3 linked regions of the Homo sapiens genome follow. The protein of the gene in region 1 interacts with the protein of each later gene in a pairwise test. Each region holds a gene or a part of one and is shown in the gene's direction. Other genes may lie near its edges.

The links.
Region 2: the proteins of MAPK7 (region 1) and BAG2 interact in binary tests that used the Homo sapiens proteins (3 or more experiments, as listed by UniProt).
Region 3: the proteins of MAPK7 (region 1) and MEF2A interact in binary tests that used the Homo sapiens proteins (3 or more experiments, as listed by UniProt).

Annotation. Positions count from the first base shown.
Region 1 is NC_000017.11:19,374,292-19,381,507, forward strand, and holds the start of MAPK7 (mitogen-activated protein kinase 7), read left to right. Parts: upstream 1-4,206; 5' UTR 4,207-4,339; exon of another isoform or gene 4,340-4,604; 5' UTR 4,605-4,609; coding exon 4,610-4,841; intron 4,842-5,490; coding exon 5,491-5,656; intron 5,657-6,192; coding exon of another isoform or gene 6,193-6,210; intron 6,211-6,316; coding exon 6,317-7,216. UniProt on the Homo sapiens protein: Plays a role in various cellular processes such as proliferation, differentiation and cell survival. The upstream activator of MAPK7 is the MAPK kinase MAP2K5.
Region 2 is NC_000006.12:57,167,680-57,175,348, forward strand, and holds the start of BAG2 (BAG family molecular chaperone regulator 2), read left to right. Parts: upstream 1-4,646; 5' UTR 4,647-5,018; coding exon 5,019-5,131; intron 5,132-5,190; exon of another isoform or gene 5,191-5,782; intron 5,783-6,523; exon of another isoform or gene 6,524-6,702; coding exon of another isoform or gene 6,703-6,716; intron 6,717-7,669. Other genes in the region: E3 SUMO-protein ligase ZNF451, read left to right, coding at 744-790. UniProt on the Homo sapiens protein: Co-chaperone for HSP70 and HSC70 chaperone proteins. Acts as a nucleotide-exchange factor (NEF) promoting the release of ADP from the HSP70 and HSC70 proteins thereby triggering client/substrate protein release.
Region 3 is NC_000015.10:99,673,982-99,681,090, forward strand, and holds part of MEF2A (myocyte-specific enhancer factor 2A), read left to right. Parts: intron 1-411; coding exon 412-631; intron 632-1,417; coding exon 1,418-1,477; intron 1,478-4,666; coding exon of another isoform or gene 4,667-4,770; exon of another isoform or gene 4,771-6,969; intron 6,970-7,109. UniProt on the Homo sapiens protein: Transcriptional activator which binds specifically to the MEF2 element, 5'-YTA[AT](4)TAR-3', found in numerous muscle-specific genes. Also involved in the activation of numerous growth factor- and stress-induced genes.

The DNA of each region.
Region 1 (7,216 bases):
TCACAGTTCGATGGCTACGTAGAAATGCTGATCTGATTTCCCAAAAGAAAGCAAAAATCAGGATTCTTATGGCAAATCTCCCCATTTTTGACAGGCAAATAATTCCAAGCTTTTAAAAAGCACCGTGTGAGTCATTCTCTCATACCACTGGTGGGTGTCTAAATCAGTATAATCTCTAAGGATAGAAATTTGACATTAGCTACTAAAATTGTAAGAACAATACTCTTTAACTTGACACTCCCACTTCTGGTATTCTTCCTGCATATACACTTGCTGTGTGCAAAATGATGTGTTCAAGAAAATTTATTGCAGCATTGTTTGCAATAGTGAAAAAACTGAACTCATCTAAATGTCTATCTAGGGGGTCTTGGTTAAATAGGTTATATTCGTAAAGGAATATCATGCAGCTGTAAAAATGAGTGCTTTTTTTTTAGATATGACAATAGCACAAGTGACAAAAGACAAAACAGATAACTGGACTTCATCAAAATTAAAAACTTTTGTGGAACAGAGGATGTTATCAAGAAAGTGAAAAGACGATCTGAGAAATGGAAGTAAATATCTGTAAATCATGGGAAGTAAATATCTGTAAATCATCTAATAAGGTAATATCTGTATCTGTAAATCATCTGATAAGGGACTTTTGTTTAGAATATATAAAGAACTCTGACAGCTCAACAATAAAAAGGCAAATAATCCAATTAAAAATGGACAGAGGGCTGATGCGGTGGCTCATGCCTGTAATCCCAGCACTTTGGGAGGCTGACGTAGGCCGATCACTTGAGCTCAGGAGTTCAAGACTAGCCTGGCCAACACAGTGAGACCCTGTCTCTGCTAAAAATACAAAAATTAGCTGAGTGCAATGATGTGTGCCTGTAGTCCTAGCTACTTGAGAGGCTGAGGCAGGAGAATCACTTGAGCTTGGGAGGCGGAGGCTGCAGTGAGCTGAGATCCTACCACCGCACTCTAGCCTGGGCTGGAGTGAAACCCTGTCTCAAAAAGAAAAAAAAAAAAGGTCAAAGGATTTGAATAGATATTGAACAGACATTTCCCCAAAGGAGACAAATGGCCAATAAACCGTGAAAACATCCTTAGTCATTAGGGAAATGCAAATCAAAACTACAATGACGTATCACTTCACACCCACTAGGATGGCTATAATTAAAAAATAATAATAATAATAAGGCTGGGTACTGTGGCTCATGCCTGTAATCCCAGCACTTTGGGAGGCTGAGGCAGGTGGATCACTTGAGGTCAGGAGTTCGAAACCAGCCTGACCATCTCTAATAAAAATATAAAAATTAGCTGGACATGGTGGTGGGGACCTGTAATCCCAACTACTCGGGAAGCTGAGGGAGAAGAATTGCTTGAACCTGGGGTGCAGATGTTGCAGTGAGCCGAGATCGTGCCAGTGCACTCCAGCCTGGGCGATAGAGTGAGACTCAGTATCAGAAAAAGAAAAGAGGTGTTGGTGAGGATGTGGAGAAATCGGAACTCTTAAATATTGCTGGTGAATTTGTAAAATGGTGCAACTGCTGGAGAAAACAGCTTGGCACTTTCTCAAGAAGTTAATAGTTTACCATGTGACCCAGCAATCCCACTCCCAAGAGAAAGGAAAACATGTCCACAAAAAAACTTGTAAACAAATGTTCTCAGAAGCATTATCATAATAGCCAAAAAGTTGAAACAACCCAAATGTTCATAAACTGATGGATAAACAAAATATGGTATATCTAAACAATGCAATATATTTGGCCATAAAAATTAGTGCTAATATGACAACATGAACTTTATGCTAAGTGAAATAAGCCAAACACAAAAGACTACACAGTGTGTGATTCCATTAGTATAGAGCATCCACAATACGCAAGTCCATAGAGACAGAAAGTAGTTCAGTGGTTGCAAGGGCTCTGGTGAAAGAGGAATGAGGAGTGACCGTTAATGGGTATAAACCAAAAATAAAATTAGAAGGCCCTTTGCAACCATCTGAATGGACTCCCTCCTTGGCCAGCACACCCTAAAATTTAACCTGAAAGACTGGTTCAGGCCACGATGGGAGGTGAGAGTTGGACATGCCTTATTATACCCCTCCAACATTAACATCAACACTGACCTTAAGTCTGATAAGAAATATTTGTCTATTCTCTCTATAGCCTGCTACTGGGAGGCTTCAACTGCATAATAAAACCTAGGTCTCCTGGCCAGGTGCAGTGGCTCACGCCTGTAATCCCAGCACTTTGGGAGGCCGGGAGCAGGGGGGCGTGGATGACTTGAGGTCAGGAGTTCGAGACCAGCCAGGCCAACAGGGTGAAACCCCATCTCTACTAAAATACAAAAAAAAAAAAAAAAAAAAAAAAAAAGCCGGGCTTGATGGCTCATGCCTGTGATCCCAGCTATTCGGGAGGCTGAGGCAGGAGACCAGGAGGGGGAGGTTGCAGTGAGCCGAGATCGCACCACTGCACTCCAGCCTGGGCAACAGAGTGAGACTCACTCTTCAAATAAAATAAAATAAAATAAAATAAAATAAAATAAAATAAAATAAAATAAACAACCAAAAAACCCTAGGTCTCCACAACCCCTTATCATAACCCAGATATTCCTTTCTATAGATAATAACTCTTGTAACCAACTGCCAATCAGGATATGTTTAAATCTACCTGTGACTTGGAAGCCCCTCCCCTTTGAGTTGTCCCGCCCTTCCAGAATAGACATTGAACAGACATTTCCCCAAAGGAGACAAATGGCCAATAAGCACATCAAATCAATGTCAATCTTGCATGTATTGACTTATGTATTATGTCTTCCTGAAATGTATAAAGGCTGACTATGCCCCGACCATCTTGGGCACATGTTGTAGGACCTCCTGAGGCTGTCACCACCATGTCCTTAACATTGGCAAAATAAACTTTCTAAATTGACTTGAGACTTGTCTCAGATACTTGGTTCACATAGGTTTCTTTTAGGGGCGATGAAAATGTTCCATAAACCACTCTACCTAAAATTAGGTAGTGATGATGGCTGCTCAACTGTGAATATACCAAAAAACACTGAATTGTACACTATAAAAGGATGAGTTTTATGGTATGTTATTAAAAGTTGTTTAAAAGTGAGGGACCCCTCCAGTTATTGATATGGAATGATCTTCAGGAAAAGAGCATAATATGCTACATTTTTGTACACCAAAGGGGAGGTAGGTACGAATATGCATACATATTGCTTTTTTCTAGAAGCCGCCTAGGAGTGAAACCAAAATTCTTCACTTCTTTTCGGCCCTACCTCGAGCTCCCTTTAGAAAACCTTTCCTTCCAGCTCACAGTATCCACCATGTCCACCTTCGCCTCCCGGCACTGAGCCTTAGAGGGGCGGTGCTCCATAAACATTTGCTACATGAATGAACGAATAAACTATCGGATTTTGGGGTGGGTCGGGACAGCTCGGTTCCAGCGAGGGCTCCGCCCACCCGCGGGCTCCGCAGAGGAGCAGAGGTTGGGCGGCCGCCTCGGTTAACTCCGCTGCAGCCCAAAGCACGGGAATCGCGGGACAGACAAACGAGCGGAGGGAAGATACCTAGAAGCCAGGAAACCGCGAGCTGCAGTCCAACTTGGCCGGAAGCTGCGGAGAGGCTCAGCCACCGGAAGTCAGTGGAGGGTTCGGCCGGACGCTCTAGAATCCCGGAGGACCGGGATCTCTGTGGTTGGCCGTGACGGGCACCCTCTACCGGGGATGACACATTCCCAGAGCTCCTGGGACCAAGCAAATGGCGGACACAATTCCCTGGGCGGAAGGGGACTTCGGGAGCCAGTAGCCAAGGTAACAGTCCCAGACCTGGGCATCTCAGGCCGGGCAGTTCCCCGAGCTCACGGGACTAGCTGTGATTGGCCGGATGAGGTTGAGAGCTTCATGGGGACGCGCGCGCTACGTGCAGGGGCGTTGCCTTCCATTCACTTGGCGCCCGACTGCCAGTGCGCATGCGTTTGAAGGCGGTGCAGGGCGGGGAGCACACCCCTGCGAAGTGCCGGGCACCCTTTGGGCGGCTCCCGCCGGCGAGCTGGACAGCGGCGCGCGCCAGGCGTGGCTTTCTCGGCCGGTGGGCTAGGATTGGACGCAGTAGGTAGAAGGGGCAGGACCCTCCGCAGCAGTAGCTCAGCGATTGGCCAGGAGCTGGAGGGAGCGTGGCCTTGGGAGGCGGGGCGGAGGGGGACGGACAGGGCAGCTCAAGACGCTGAGGTGGTGGCTGCGGCCTTTGAACAAGTAAGTGAGCCACCCTCGGAGACCCCCGCGCTGGGGACGGGAGGCCGGCGAGCCTCGGGACCTCTGAAAGCCTTGAGGAGGCGCGGGGGTGAGTGCGGCCCTGAGGAAACCCAGGTGCCCCGCCCCTCCCTTTCTTCCTGGCCCGCGCCTCGCCTACCCCTCCCCCGACCCTGGCGGGCCCCCGGCTCTGGGCCCGGACCCCTGGGGTAGCTAGTCTGCCACGAACCAGCCGCGCGCTTCTGCCCTTGTCGGTTTAGGAAACTGGGAAGTTCCCTGGTCCTGCTCCCCAGCCCGCAGAGGGGACACTGAGGCCCACGGTAGGTGGTCCTCTCCTCACCCGAGTCTCCACACAGACACCATGGCCGAGCCTCTGAAGGAGGAAGACGGCGAGGACGGCTCTGCGGAGCCCCCCGGGCCCGTGAAGGCCGAACCCGCCCACACCGCTGCCTCTGTAGCGGCCAAGAACCTGGCCCTGCTTAAAGCCCGCTCCTTCGATGTGACCTTTGACGTGGGCGACGAGTACGAGATCATCGAGACCATAGGCAACGGGGCCTATGGAGTGGTGTCCTCCGCCCGCCGCCGCCTCACCGGTGAGCTTCCTGAGCCGTCGCCTCCCAGATGTGGCAGCGTCGCAGGGAGTGGGAAACCGGCCTGTCCCAGACAGCCGGGAAGGAAAGCGGGGTGCGAGTTCTGGCTCCAGTCAACACACACTGACCAGGGCCTTCTGCCTGCCAGGCTCCGGGGAGGCTCGGTTCTCTGAAACTCCGGCCTGGTGGTTTTGCCATCCTGCCTGCCTACTTCCTCCTTAGGAAAATGATAGTCCCAGTTAGACCAGAATGGAGAGCCAGTCCTTCGTGTCTAAGAGAGAAATGTGTTCTGGAGCCAGACACTGGCATAAGGAACTGGTGGTGGGATGGGTGAGGTCTGAGATGGAGAGGGTGTAGGCATAAGAGGCTGAGCTACACCACTGGGCATCCGTGCAACCTCCAACAAGTTACTAAGCCATATTTCCTTCTCTTTAACGTTGACCTATTGGGACCTGCCCCGCAGGGGAGTTGTGAAGGTAACATTTAATAATGTAGGTAACATGCTTAGCACAGGGCTTGGCACATAGTAGGTACCCAATACTTGGTAGCTGTTGTCATTTGCATCCTAGAAGGGAGGTGTTGATAGGGGCTGAGTCGACTCTGCAGTTTCTCCAAGGTATCCTCTGGTATGTCCCTTTTCCCTGCTCCTCAGGCCAGCAGGTGGCCATCAAGAAGATCCCTAATGCTTTCGATGTGGTGACCAATGCCAAGCGGACCCTCAGGGAGCTGAAGATCCTCAAGCACTTTAAACACGACAACATCATCGCCATCAAGGACATCCTGAGGCCCACCGTGCCCTATGGCGAATTCAAATCTGTGTAAGAAGCGGGATGGGAGAGGGAGCCAGACTTGGGACTTTTCTGAAGGCTGCAACCATGTTGCCGAAGTTCTGGAAAGGCAGCTGAATCTAATCTGAAGCAGGCTGGGAAAATTCCCGCAGTTCTAGGACCAGTTCTTTAGAGTTTTGCCAGGGACAACTGTTATTCCTCAAGAAGTGTACAGATGATTTTACAGTTTTATAGAATCTTAGTATATAGGATGTCAAATGTAGGACATTCCTACTATGACCACACCCTCCTATTCCCATAGCAGACTTCACTAATCAATCACAGAACACTTTCCTACAGACAGTGGACAAGCCTGGTCAATTTTCATCATAGTTCTTCAAGCTGCCACTACCAAACAATGGAGATAGCCCCAAAAGGAAACCTATTGGCCAGCCCTGGTGTAGTCCAACCCCATCTTTTATCTGATGGGGAAACTAGGTCTGGAGACAAAAGTGATTTAACCAAGTTCATGGAAAAGTCGTAGAGAATCTAAAACGTGATGCTCTTCTTCCATACCATGCCGTCAGCCCCTATGGGGTCCCAGGGTAAGGCTGTTACCTGTCTGGAATCGGAAGGGTGTGGTGAGGATGGGGCTTGTCCCTGGAGTGTGATCAGGCCAACCCATGCTTCTCTCCTTCCTTCCCCTTCCAGCTACGTGGTCCTGGACCTGATGGAAAGCGACCTGCACCAGATCATCCACTCCTCACAGCCCCTCACACTGGAACACGTGCGCTACTTCCTGTACCAACTGCTGCGGGGCCTGAAGTACATGCACTCGGCTCAGGTCATCCACCGTGACCTGAAGCCCTCCAACCTATTGGTGAATGAGAACTGTGAGCTCAAGATTGGTGACTTTGGTATGGCTCGTGGCCTGTGCACCTCGCCCGCTGAACATCAGTACTTCATGACTGAGTATGTGGCCACGCGCTGGTACCGTGCGCCCGAGCTCATGCTCTCTTTGCATGAGTATACACAGGCTATTGACCTCTGGTCTGTGGGCTGCATCTTTGGTGAGATGCTGGCCCGGCGCCAGCTCTTCCCAGGCAAAAACTATGTACACCAGCTACAGCTCATCATGATGGTGCTGGGTACCCCATCACCAGCCGTGATTCAGGCTGTGGGGGCTGAGAGGGTGCGGGCCTATATCCAGAGCTTGCCACCACGCCAGCCTGTGCCCTGGGAGACAGTGTACCCAGGTGCCGACCGCCAGGCCCTATCACTGCTGGGTCGCATGCTGCGTTTTGAGCCCAGCGCTCGCATCTCAGCAGCTGCTGCCCTTCGCCACCCTTTCCTGGCCAAGTACCATGATCCTGATGATGAGCCTGACTGTGCCCCGCCCTTTGACTTTGCCTTTGACCGCGAAGCCCTCACTCGGGAGCGCATTAAGGAGGCCATTGTGGCTGAAATTGAGGACTTCCATGCAAGGCGTGAGGGCATCCGCCAACAGATCCGCTTCCAGCCTTCTCTACAGCCTGTGGCTAGTGAGCCTGGCTGTCCAGATGTTGAAATGCCCAGTCCCTGGGCTCCCAGTGGGGACTGTGCCATGGAGTC
Region 2 (7,669 bases), on another chromosome or scaffold:
ATCTGGTGTGAGAAGCTAGTGAAGGCCAAGAAATTGACACCAAATTTCACCCTCCTGGATTTTAGCATCATTCCCAAGGAGGAGATGGAACTCAACTATTGTGAACCCAATAACGTCTGTCTTGTTCACTATTACATTGCTGTTCCTGGTATATAATGGGCATTCAATAAATATTTGTCAAATGAGTTTACATACATCTGCATACAGCATATATTATATGCTTCTCAGATGACATTTATGTGGCTATGAGTTTCACTACCTTAGATGCTAGGATGCTTTAAGCTAATTTTTCCCCAGCTTTATTGAGGTATAATTAAAAATTAAACTAAATTTTTAATGGCCTGTGACATTTTGTCATTTCATGGAGTTGCCTTTCTGTTTAAAGTCTTATATGTATCACCTCAAGTCTTTTAGCAAATAAGTGATACAGATTTTTTTTTAAATGTTGAAACAAATGATTACCTGTCAGTGATTTTAAAAGTTTGTTGACTTTCTACATTCCTAAGTGGAATTAACTTGCAAGTTCTAAGTTCATATATAAAATTCAATTCAAGATCATGTCTAGATTTTCATATTTCAAAATACTCAATTTTTTAGTAGAGAAACTGCCAAGTTATCCTGTGTTTTTCCATTTTGATTTTACTTTCCTTCTTGAAAAGAATACAGTCGATGAAACTTAAATAAATACAGCACATGTTGAGTTTTCTGCCCTAAGTGTTAAAATTCTATGTTTTTTAATGCAGATGTGGAATTAGAAGAAGCTATTAGAAGAAGTCTTGAGGAAATGTAATTAAAGATATTACCACACAACATCAAGTGGCCTTGAAGAGACTGAGATAACGAATTCTTGAGTTTGTTTTCTAAAGGAGACCAGAAATCCACTATTACAAATGTATTTGAAAACATGTTTTTGCTTTCATATGTTCAAAATCTGATCTTTGTTTTGTATTTTTGTGCTAATGTGCAAACATGTACAGAAGAAATAGAATACATGTTCATGCAAATATAAATTATGTATTCTAATATAGGTGTAACAGTTTCCCAGTTAACTTTGAATTTATATATTTAGATTTAAAGGATTAAAAAAAAGGAAAGCTCTTGACAGTTGTTTCCCAAATAGCATTAGTTCTTTAATTTTATTTGTACTGTACAAATGATGCTAGTTTATTTTTTTAGCAGTGAAAATGAATATAAAAAAGGTGACATAGGTCAAGTTTTCCATAAATTCTACTTCTCATGTGGCACTATTATATAATACCTTTGAGATCTTTGTTTATGTTTATTAGAAGAGGGTAATGGAAACTGATCATGGAAACATTTAAAATTTTATCAGCAATGTTCTTTGTGGGTGCCATGCATATGTAAATTATTGCTTTAATTAGAGCAGCACATTGCTAAAATAAAAAATACACCTTAATTTTTAAGAAATAATTTAAATGAAACAATTTCCATTCCTTTTACCTGCTTAGACTTTTATGTGACTTGTATGGTCTCCTGGTTAAAGGGAATGGTGTCAGAATATTTGCATAAAATTATTTTTCATAACAGTCCTTTTTTATATATTGGTGTAAACATAATATTCTTCAAGAAATAATGTTGAAAGCCTACTCAGGAATAATCTTCCTTAACTCTTTAAATTTTTATTTCATGTGAAGTGTTTTCAGTTTAGTTATTCACTGAATTGTCAGTTTCCTTCATTTGGTATTACATATTTAATTCTTAAATATTGAGGCCCCATTGTGAGTAATAAAAAATACGACATAAGTAGAAGACTAAGAAGGGCTTGTCATATTATCTTTGTGTATATGCTTCATGTTATTTAACCAGAAATGTCTTATCTCTAAAAATTTTTAGTAGTAATTATTTACCAAACTTAAAAACATTTCTATAAATATAAAGCTTTTCTTTATATTTAAGACAAAATATAAAGGCTAGAATTTGGTTCCTTCTCTGTAACACTAAATATTTTAGTGTGAAATTGAATTTTTTTATTACTATAGTCTTTTCAATCTATAATTTGTGTTTTTAATTTCTTGATATGTCACTTCTGTTCCTCCCTGCTTGCATTTTTTAAAAACTAGACATTGTGGCTTGAGAATTTATCAATCATCTTTCCGAAATGACCACATTGTGCTTTTAGTTTGTATGTTTAAGTGGTCAAGCAAGGCTCTAGGAGGTAGTCACTGAGCTGGACCTTAAACACATCTGCAGGAGCTCACAAAATGGGAGCAAAAGAGGCATTCCAGAAAGAAGAGTAGTTAAGCAGATGTGGGGGCAGGGCAAGAGGAGACAGCACCTTGTTGCCAGAGATTCTACACAAAGGTGTGATGGACACTGATGCTCTATTAAGAAGCTTTTGTGGTGTGTGTGGTAGAGAATAATTAAGGCTTCTGATAAGACAGGAAAGGGATATTTCATCATGACTGTTAAGAAAAGGTAACTGGGTTGTTTAATGTTTTAATTGATAATTGTCACTGATCGTATTTCTACTTGTTAAATAATTAAAAATCATCTTAAAATTCATACTTTGACTTTAATTTAGACACAAGGAGATGTAATCGCTGTGTAACATCAGAGAAAGCTATATGGATTATCGTCAGAAGTAAATGTTTCTAACATTGACAAAGATGCTTATCTTTTCATTACATCATTCACTCATTAATTCATTCAATCACAAAATATTGAGTACCCACCATGTGCCAGCAACTGTTCTAAGCACTTGGAATATACCAGTAAGCAAAACAAAGCCCTTACCCCTCTGTGGAGCACATATTGGTGGAGAGGAGGGGATTGTACAATGTTAGTAAGCAAGGCAATAAAACTGCATATCTGATGGTGATACGTGTAACGACGGAAAATAAAGAAGGGAAGGGAATAAATAGTGCAGGGACAGGGAGTTGGGGGGAGGCTTGCTATTTTTAATAGGGTTGTCAGAAAAGATCTCACTGATAGGTAAACTTGAGCAAAGACCTGAAGAAGGTGAGGGAATGAGGATGAAAATACATATCGGGAAGAGAGTTCCAGGTGGAGGAGGTTAAGGTCCAGACAGGAGCTTAGTATATTCAAGGAAAAGCAAGAAGACTAGTATGGCTGACAGGATGAGCTAGGAGAGTAATAGGAAATGAACTTACTGAGGTTTTTCTAATGACCTGGGCTTTTACTTTGAGGTAAGGAGCCAGTGAAGGTTTCTGAGAATAAATGGTATGATCTGCCTTATTTAGGATTGCTGTAGTTGCTGCACTGAGATAACATGTACATGAGAGGCAAGAGTAGAAGCAGGGAGACCAGAGAGGAAGGTATTGTAGTATTCCAGGTGCAAACTCACCAGGTAGCTTGAACCAGAATGGTGGCGGTAGAATTGGGAAGAATCTGGATATATTCTGAAGGCAAAATTGATGGGGTTTACTAATGGTGTGGATCTAGGATAAGAGAGAAAAAGAGTTCAGGATGATTCTAAAGTCACTTGATAGACTTTCAAACCACTCACAAAATGTGTTTTGTTTTCGTTTGTGTCATGATAAAGTTATTTTTAATAAGGTCAAATAATCCCCTACCCCAAGAGTTAATTAGGATTTAAAATGAGTTCAGAGGGAATTGGGATCCAGCCTTAAGGGCTTCAACTCTGTTCAAGTATTTAAATGGCTTTGATCTCTGATTAAAGGTGGTGGCTCAGCTTTAAACTATTATTATCTATCATTTTCTGTGCCCTGTACATTGTCATCCTTGCAATGAGAGGCATAGAGCTATCAGGAGAGGGGACTAAAGCCTAACTTTTTAAGTAGACTAATCTTTGTATCCTCAGCTCTATTCCGTCTTTTACCGACAGCTGGTGCCTGACCTAGAGGCCTACTGCATCTTTTTTGTTAACAGGATTTTTAAAAGTTGAGGACTTTTTAATGCCAATTATTTCACTCAGAATATTTATTTATTTATTTATTTTTTTGAGACAAGGTCTCGCTCTATCGCCCAGGCTGGAGTGCAGTGGCGAGATCTCGGCTCGCTCAACAGGAATAATTTTAATAGCAAAAATTTAAAACCCCTTCATTAAGCCAGGCGTGGTGGTTCACATCTGTAATCCCAGCACTTTGGGAGGCTGAGGTGGGAGGACCGCTTGAACCCGGGAGGTCGAGGCTGCAGTAAGTCGTGATCGCGCCACTACACTCCAACGTGGGCGACAGTTAGACCCCATCTCAAAAACAAAAGAAAATTAGAATGGTAAAAATGAAGTAAATTCACTTTGCTTCCCACATCTAGCTAGACAGGGAAAGATGGAGTAGCTTTTTCTTTTTTACTTCATAGCTTCAGTGTTGTCCGGGCTTTCATTACTCTCATCTCAGTATAAAGTGGTAACAGGAAGGTCAGGTGAGTGTGGGCTGCCTACGAGCTGTACTTACTGCCTTCTGTTTCACAAAAGGACGTTTTCTCCCCATAATGTCGTTGTTCTTGCTTTGAATTATGGGTGCTGGGAGAAACTAAACGAAGCCGTCACTGAGCAATACACCCACAGCCCGTCGACCGATAGGAACCTTCGCGTGGGGGGAGTTGGTTACTTTTAGGTTGCATGAAGAGGCGGGGCCTCGCGGGGCGGAGCTGGGGGTGGTCTGTGGGTCCGCGCGGGCTTCGGGTAGTTCCTGGGTCCGGGGAGCAGACGATCCGCTAGCCACATTAGGCGCTCGGTCTCTGCGTCCGCCCCTCCCGTGCCTCAGAGACTTGCGCTCCCCAGGCCCGAGCCCCTGTCGGCCCATCCTCGAGCCCGTGTGGCTCGCGAACCTCTAACTCCAGCCGCTGCAGCCCCCTCCCAGGCCCGGCGTCCCCGAGCCCCGCGGGCGCCGCGCCTGCCCTTCTTTGGCTACGCTGCAGCCGCGGTGTCGGCGAGTCCTCCCGGGTTGCCCCCGCGGGCGTCAGAGGGAGGGCGGGCGCCCGCGTGGTGACGGCGACGCCTGCAGCCCAAGGAGCGCTCCACTCGCTGCCGCCGGAGGGGCCGGTGACCTCTTGGCTACCCCGCGTCGGAGGCTTAGATGGCTCAGGCGAAGATCAACGCTAAAGCCAACGAGGGGCGCTTCTGCCGCTCCTCCTCCATGGCTGACCGCTCCAGCCGCCTGCTGGAGAGCCTGGACCAGCTGGAGCTCAGGTGAGCTCCGGGCGGGCGGTCTCGGGCGTTCTGCTCGCCGCGCGGGCGGTTCGCGGGCGGTTAGCGGACGGAGGCCGCGTGTGGCGGGCCGGGGCCTGGGGCACAGTGAGGCTGCGGCAACCGAAGTTGCTTGTTGAGATTTGTTGTGGATGGACGTGGTGTAGTTTTGTTTGTTTCTTGGATTATCTCCCCTAGTCCGAGAGAAAACGCATTCGATTTAAGCTAAACCTGTGAGGGCGTTATCGGTGGCCACACTTTGATTAATTTACCTAGGTGTTAGGGAGCGGAAAAAAATCAGAGGAGATAAAAGTTACAGTGAGATTCCATGCGATTAAGGACTGTGGCAGCTTGGGTCTGCAGAACTTCTAGAACCTTCTGTGTGGCCCCAAACGTTTTAACTTACTCTTCTCGTTATGCATTTTTTAAGGGAGGCAGCAGTTTACAGTGGCCCTCCACGTGAAGTTAAGTTTCCTTGCTTCAGAACAAAAATGAATAAAACAAAACCAACCCAGCAATCCATTGAGAGCAAAGATTAGACAGGAGTGAGGGGTAGGCAGTAAGTTACCGGGTGCTTCGTGCAGCAGAGACGTTGCCGCTTCTGTTTCTCCCCTAACCTCGCGGACGGGATTCAGCGGTTCCGTTCGTCTCTCGGTATTTATTGGGCACCTCCCTACATAGAAGACTAAGTGCTAGTTACTGGCCTGAAAGCATGAAAAGATAGTTTTCCCCTTTTCTTGCTTAAGAATTTATTTGGTAATACAGTAGTAGACTTGTATAGAATTTCTAAACAATTTAATGTTAATAGATTTTTGGAAAGACTTTAACGGTGTATTGAAAAGTTTTATCTACTTCCTGTGAACGTTTGTCTCAAGTTACTGTGTAAATTTTGTGAGCAGGTGTAGTTAAAAGAAAATCTTGTTAGGCACCTGCAATTCCGTGAAACTGTACACAGGAGTTGGTTACATAGTTTTGTCTAGGTTGTGCATGAGCAAAGAAGCATGTGAGCCAAAAAGTTTAGGAAACACTGCATGTGTGTCTTTATCTTCCTACATTAATACACCCAAACATGAAGTATCTGTTTGCTGAGAAAATACTTCAATAACCACGGTATCTCTTAACAAGTGAGGCATTATTATTGTTACTATTGGGAGAAAAGAGCCAGAGAGTGAGAGATTCTCCACTCAAAATAATTTCTTGGATTATTAAGCCCTACACCAGGTTCTGGGGTTCCACTCAGAATGAGGCAAGTGGAAGAGAGAAGTAATGCTTCCTCATGGATTTTCACAATACTGGCAAACCTGACCGTTCCACTCCCAGAAAAAGTAGAGCGAAAGTAGAAATTGGTGGCCTCAGTTACTTGAAGTCCCTCTAACTGGTAATGTTTCTTTTTAGGGAGCCACATAACAAGTAACACACATCTCTCCATGTCTTCAGAACGTTGAGGGCATGTTCTCAACCACTTCATTCTCCTCTCCCTTAGCCAGAAAGAAAAGTTTTCCTAAAGGAATGGGGAGGTTGTTACTCCACTCCGCCTTCCTTCAAGCTGAGTCATTGTCCTCCAACTTGAATTAATGCCTCACATGTGGTAGGTACAAAAGCACTCTGAAGTGCTCCTCTTTAAAAGAAAGCCTCAGGTTTTGAATATTATTATATTCTACTGTTTGATTAATGTAAAATGAATTCTGATTGCACATCAGTGATTAAATTACAACTTGCTTAATTAACATTTGAGCTGAGGAGAAAAGTGATTAATATGTGGCTGTTCATTTCAAGGACTTTTTTTTAGTAATTCTGGACTTTTGTAGGCCTTTTTTCTTCTTTTTAAAAAAGTAATACTAGCTGAAAAGGAAGGATTTCCGAAGGTAAGCAAAAATAGAGAAAAATGCTAATGTAGATCCTATTAAAGTTTTTTTTGAAACCACATGGGCAATGGCACTGAACACTATTAAAAACTAGAATCATGCGTAGAAGATCGATTTTTAAAAGAAAACATGAAACTCATATGTAATTTTGCTCTAATAGTTTGATTTTGTTGACTAATAAAGTAGTGTAACTGTGTAGAATAAAACCTTATAGTTTGTACTTAGAAGTGTGCACTTAATGTTCCCTAACCACACTGATCCTGTCAATTGTGGAAGAAATTTCATACTTTATGACCTGGAGTATGAACTGATCTACATGATGTTTAAAATGTTTGGCAGCAGTTTTACAAACTGTTAAAGGATTTCCATTTATCTCTAATGGAATTTATCAATACAGTAGCCCTTTTTTTTGGACTGCATTTTGTCTTCTGTATTTCTTCCTTCTACAGAGGTGATTCCCTTTTCTCCGTTTTGACGATCAGTTCTAAATGGACTCTGAGTTTTGCATTCTTCAGTGGCTCAAACCATCTTGCTTACTATTGTTACTTTTTAACAATTATTGTAATTTGTAAAAAATACTATGATATTACGATTCTCTCTCTCTGTATATATACAACGTTTTCCTGGCTCATAACTCCCATAACCCTTGTTACAGTCTTATGTTATAGTTCCTGGC
Region 3 (7,109 bases), on another chromosome or scaffold:
GTTATATTTGGGATCTCTCAGTAGAAATGTAATGTTATTAAGGTTTACATTGAAGTGCCAATTTATGCTTACTTGGTGACAGTGATATATTTTGTAATGTCTAAATATGACAACACTACTTGATTATCAGGTTTATCCTCTTAAATTTGTCTTTATGAATATTTGAAATATAGAATATAGACATTAGTATATATTAATGTATAAAGTTGAAATTGAAAAGGCTCATGTCAGTCATATTCATGTTCAAACATAATTCTAAAGAAAATAGCTTTAATCTGTAAATTGGTTAAGAACCTATCCCTATCCTCTACTTTTAGTAACTTGAGTTACCTTGCCAAATTAAAGTTCAAAAGTTACTTTGTAGATGAATACGAAACCAACAGTTTTTTCCTTCTTTTTCTTTATTTACAGCCTGGTCTGCCACCTCAGAACTTTTCAATGTCTGTCACAGTTCCAGTGACCAGCCCCAATGCTTTGTCCTACACTAACCCAGGGAGTTCACTGGTGTCCCCATCTTTGGCAGCCAGCTCAACGTTAACAGATTCAAGCATGCTCTCTCCACCTCAAACCACATTACATAGAAATGTGTCTCCTGGAGCTCCTCAGAGACCACCAAGTACTGGCAATGCAGGTATGTAGTGATACCTATTATGCTGGTTCTTTAATAAAGAGGGTGAAAAAATTCATTGCTAACATAAGCAGTTTCTTATTTTGCTATTCTTTTATTGCTTTGATGAGCAAGAATCACTGATACATAATTGGCCTCATTTTAAAGTATTTTTTTGAAAATCAATTGTGGGTGTAGCATTGTGTCATGCAAAGTAGAACAGTACTGAGAACCTGCCATTTATATGCTTTCCTTCTCATGGGAAAGCCATACTTTGACAGGCAGAAAATTTAGTTAGATATCAGAAGCAAGGATTTAAAGTAGAGTGTGAGCCATTCATGTTAGAAATATGGGTGATAGACTACCTGATTGGAGTTAGAGTATCTTTTACATCTCCTCCTGCCTGAATTACTTCATTAATTCAGCAAAATTTATGTTACATTTATTGTATTAGTCTATGAAATGCAGTGTCTCCTCTCTCTTAAGTCCTAGATTTAATTTAGTGATTTAATCATACTCCTTACACACTGCCCCCGTTTTTATCAGTATGTACTATTTTGGTATTGATGCAATACCACTATTTGGTATTGAAGGCGACATCAAGCTTGAAAGGTAAACTCATATATATGAGATATAATAACTACATCAGATTACATGTTAATGCCAACTTCAGACTGAGCTAGTTTTTATTTTTGTGTCTTTTTAGGATTAGAGTGAGAGTTATCTCTATTCAGTTCACGTTCAGTTAGGTAAAGAGAGCTAATTCATATTCATTCTCTGCCCTCTGTCTTCTCTCCGTAACGTTGTTAGGTGGGATGTTGAGCACTACAGACCTCACAGTGCCAAATGGAGCTGGAAGCAGTCCAGTGGGTGAGTGAATTCCTACTCTTCTGTTTTGTAGGTATCTATCCTATATGAGATCAAAGGAATGTTGTTCCTGAAATAAAGCTTTCTGGGAAATTTCCTTCTGAAGGGTACTTTCACTAATACATCAAGATAATTTCTTAAGGGGAGACTTTCTCTAACTTCCCTGCTTACCAAAGTTAGACTGTTACCAAACTACTCTATCTTACAACAGCATGAAATGTTTTCAGAGAGACTAGAATGAAAAGAAATGGTGGGTCTATCTACTTCTACAGATAGAAAGATAATTAACATATTTGTCTTGGCCGGGCGTCGTGGCTCACACCTGTAATCCCAGCACTTTGGGAGGACGAGGTGGGCAGATTGCCTGAGCTGAAGAGTTTGTGACCAGCCTGGGCAACACTGTGAAACCCTGTCTCTACTAAAATACAAAAAAATTTAGCTGGGCGTGGCAGTGTGCACCTGTAGTCCCAGCTATTCGGGAGGCCGAGGGAGGAGAATTGCTTGAATCCGGGAGGCGGTGGTTGCAGTGAGCTGAGATCGCATCACTGCACTCCAGCCTGGGCGATAGAGTGAGACTCCTTCTCAAAAAAAAAAAAATTATGGAGATGATTGAATGACTTAATAAAAATGATGAGGAAGAAATAAACAAACATCAATAAAGATATTATTAAGACAAGTTACAAAATATTTAATGACAAAGTAGGAATAAATGCCTAATTATATCTGCCACAGTATTAAATATTTTAATGGAATTAAACAGATAAGACCTATTGTGGAGTCTTACTTAACAGAAAACAATTAAATGTGGGAAAATACATAAAGGTTGTACCAGTTAAACACTAGGGCTGCTACTCTTGTATGTGTATTTCCAAATATTTATGGTTTTTTTTCAGCTCTTGTTTTAGTTGTTTGTATGCCTACATACTGTTTTTGTGTCCCTTTTTTTTTTTATTCCCCCAACAGAATAATAAGTTCAGGGCCCACCAAGAATTGTGAGAGCCTAATATGCTTCTCTCACATTGGGTTGACACCCCAAAAGGCTGGACTCTAGAAGTAAAGTAAACCAGAGATAAACAGTTCTTCTCAGTAGTGACATCTTACAGATGCATCATACAGTTTTGTTTTTTTTTTTTTGAGACGGAGTCTCGCTCTTGTCGCCCAGGCTGGAGTGCAGTGGCGCCATCTCCGCTCACTGCAAACTTCACCTCCCGGGTTCACGCCATTCTGCCTCAGCCTCCCGAGTAGCTGGGACTACAGGTGCCCGCCACCACGCCGGGCTAATTTTTTTGTATTTTTAGTAGAGACGGAGTTTCACCGTGTTAGCCAGGATGGTCTCAATCTCCCGACCTGGTGATCTGCCTGCCTTGACCTCCCAAAAGTTTGTTAAAATTAGATCGTAGTGATTAGAAATTAGATTTAGGGGTTCCAGAATGCCCGGAAAAGCAAATAGTCTCTGGAAGAATAAAATAAGCCTGGCCCACATGGCAAAACCCCATCTCTACTAAAAATACAAAAATTAGCCGGACGTGGTGGCAAGTGCCTGTAATCCCAGCTACTCAGGAGGCTGAGGCAGGAGCATCACTTGATCCCAGGAGGCGGAGGTTGCAGTGAGCCGAGATCATGCCACTGCACTCCAGCCTGTGCGACAAGAGCAAAACGCTGTCTCAAAAATAAATAAATAAATAAATAAATAAAATAAAACACCATCTCAGACCTTATTATTTCTAACTTGGCACATAAGCTGAACTAGGCACACACACAAATAAAGCAAATGAAAACTTGCAGAAATAAACAAACAATGGAATCAGCCTCCTGGGAACTCCAGAATTTGGAGTTACTAGGCACAGACTTTGACTTTAATATAACAGTGTTTACTGTGTTCAAGGGTATTTAAAAAACAAAAAGATTGAGAATTTTAGCAGAGAACTGAAATTTATTTAAAAAATGGAAATTTTAGAACAAAAAAACCCCGTAATGTTAAGAACTTAACAGATGGGCTTAAAAACAGATTGGACAAAGCAAATACAAGAATTAAGAAACTAAAAGATAAGATAGAAGAAAATTATCCAGAATTTTGGAGACACAAAGGGATGGAAAATTAAAAAGAAGACCCAGAGCATGCAATAAAAAGGACTAGCATACGTTAAATTGAAGTCCCAGGAAGCAAAGTCAGAGAAAATTGGGCAGAAGCAGTATTTGAAGAGATAATCACTGAGAATTTTCCAAAACTAACAACAACAAAAAAGCCACAAATTGGGAAGGCCTATAAAACTCAACGTGGAATACAGATAATGCTGTGCTTTATGAGAAATTTAAACCTTTATGAACAAAAGACTGGAGATGGTGAGCTAAACCTCCTTCTCAGGAAGTCAGAAAAGGACAGCAAATTAAACATAAAGTAGGTAGAACCAAATAACAAAGATACAAGCATTGAAATAGAAAATAGAAAATTTTCTATTTCAGGCATGGTGAAACAGATGATCTCATACGTGCTTTTGTGGTATTGTAAATCAGTAACAATCTTTCTGGAAAGGTTTTGGCAAGATGTTTCAGTGGTCATAAAAATACAAGTATTGATACTGAAATAGAAAAACAAATTGAATTAACAAAACAAATACTGATTATTTAAAAGACTAATAAAATGGAATGTTTTCACTAATATTCAATTCGAAATATTTTCTAATTTCCATTATATCTTTTTCTTTAACCCAACTTGTAAGTTATTTAGAATTATATTTCTTAATTTCAAATACATGGAGATTTTCCAGTTATCTTTGAGATATTATTTTCTAGCCAGATTGTTTTGTTACCAGAGAACTTACCTCTATATGATTAAGTTCTCTGAAATTTGCTGATACTTTTTTATAGGCCAGCATGTGCTCAATTTTTGTCTGTGTTGTGTACTGGAAAGGAATGTTTATTCTGTATTATAAGCATGGATTGCAAATTCTACTTGTTTTAAATACGTTTTATCTGTATATATGTCATAACTTACTGTATCAGCTCCAGTTTAGAAACTCGTGATAGGTCAGTTCCAGATAGTTTTGCGTTACCTTTAAACCATATCATTTTTACCAATATTGTCATTTTCAAATACGTAATTTGTTTATAGGCGAGTCTTCCATTTGCCTTGTTCGTATTTTAATTTTTGTTGCATCTTCTGCCTGCTTCCCTAAAATTGGAATACTTCAGGCCCATGTACTGCTAAAAGAAGAGGCATCCTTGAGACTTTTAAAGCACTGAACGAACTCAGGAAAGGCAAAGACTTCTTAAATAAGAAACCAAAGAAAGTCTAATGGAAAGACTGATTGATTTGCTTGTGTGAAAATTGGAAACTTTGTGAATCAAAAGCACTGTAAAGAGAGTAAAAAGGCAAGACAGAATGGGAGAATATATATAGTATGTATACAATCAATAGAGAGGTTTTTTTTTAAGAATACCTACAAATCAGTAAGAAAAAGAAAACTCGACTTTTGAAAATGTGCATGAGAACACATCACTTCACAAAAGAAATGTCTGATAAATGTGAAGAAATGCTCAGTCTCAGTAGTCATGGAAATGCAAAATTAAACCACAAAGAGAGAACACTGCACACCCACCAGAATTGCTAAGATGAAATAGATGGTATACCAAATATTGACAAAGCTATGAAAAAGCACAAACTCATACACTGGTAATGGGAGTACAAGTTGTTGCAACCATTTGGCATTATCTGCCTAAGCTGCAGATACGTGTATTGTGTGACCCAGCATTTTCACTCATCCTTATGTACTGTAGAGAAATGCATTTGTGCATCACGAGTACCAAGAGATATGTAAAAGAATGTGTACAACATTATGTTAAAGTCATTGTCTAGAAATAGTACAGATCTCTGTCAACAGTAGAATGGATAAATATAAGAGTACATTCATATGAAAGAATATTATACTGCAGTGAAAATGAAATCACAGCAGTTCTCAACATGGATGAATGTCACCAAACATTATGAATTAAAGAAGATAGATACATACTCAAGATTCTAACTATATAAAGTTTGAAAAGCAGGCCAAAAAAACTATAGTGTTTGGGATGCTTGTGTAGATAGATGGCAGAGCCATAAAGAAAAACCAAGAAATTACTGTAAAATTCACAATAGTGGTTACTTTGGGTAGGTGGGACTCTCGGAATATTTTAGGGGGCCCAATTATGGAAACTTCTGGGGTTCTGGCAGTATTCTTAATCTGAATGGTGGTTACGTGGATCTTCACTTTATGATAAATCCTTAACCTATACGTTTTTGTTTTGTACATTTTCTGTTTATGTGTTACATTAGCAAGAAAACAGTTTTGAAAATAAAAGAATACACTAGATATAATAATAAAGGAACTATAACAACAAATATAAAGGCACTTTTTAAATTATAAGAGAAAATAATGTACATTTTGTGGTATTTATACTATTCCAAAATTCAGAGAGAAAATGTATAGACACTCAACACTCACATTCATGCACAAACTAGAGGTAGCCTTTGAGTCTTTGGACATTGTTGTCTGCATGTGGCAGCTGGAACTCAGCACCCATCTTAAGATCATGAGACAAGTCAGTTTAAGATGACAGGTCAAAATGCCAAGGTTGATGAAGTGAAAAGCTGGTGGCCCTCAGTGTTGAGCTGCTGAAGCAGCTGAGTCTGGGACCACTCTTCCCCTAGTCTTTTTATGTGAGATAATACGTGTTGCTCATTCTCCAGAGGAAAAAAGCAAGATAAAATCCAAGCAACAGATAGGGGAATGTTTAGTAATGGGCATTTAATTGTACCAAAATACACAATTCAAAAAAGAAACCTAACTAGTATTTTAAAAACTGAAAAGGTTGTTCATCATTGGTAGTATTCATGAAATTCAAATTAAAATGACAAAAAAAAATACTACTCTTACTTACTAATTCCCAACTATTAGCACTTTTTATTGTGATATTCAGTGCTAATGAAGGCATGGTGAAACTGATGATCTCATGCATGCTTTTGTGGCATTGTAAATTAGTAACAATCTTTCTGGAAAGGTTTTGGCAAGAGGTTTTAGTTGTCATAAAAATGTTTATACCTCCAAGCCCACTAATCCCATTTTTGGGAATCTCTCCTGAAGAGGTAAGTTAGAATAAGCAAAGCTTCATTGCAACTTTATTTGTAGTAATGAATAATAGGAAGAAATCAACATATTCAACAATATGAAAATGAAGTAAATGAAATTTCAACTGAATTTCTTTTTAGTTGTGATTTAAAACGAGCAAAAAATATGAGCATGGAAAACAAAAAGGGAAAAATCCAAAGAGATTATAATACTTAAGATGGTGGGACTGTGTTTTTCACTCTTTTTCTAGTTTCAGTGATGCTGTATTAATACAGTTACCTCTACAGTCATAACATCTTTATTGTAGTAAATTAGAATATTTCTTTATTTATTACTTATAACTTGTTTTCCATTGTCATCTGTGCAAATAAAACTTGGCAGCTTTGTACATATTGTAATTTGTATAGATCTTTCATAGAGGTAATTTGCTTATTTGTTTATGATTTACTAGGTATATTTCTCTATGGGGAGTTTAATACTGGGTTTATACTATAGTTCAAATGACTTTGGGGACTTTTTACTTTGGGCAC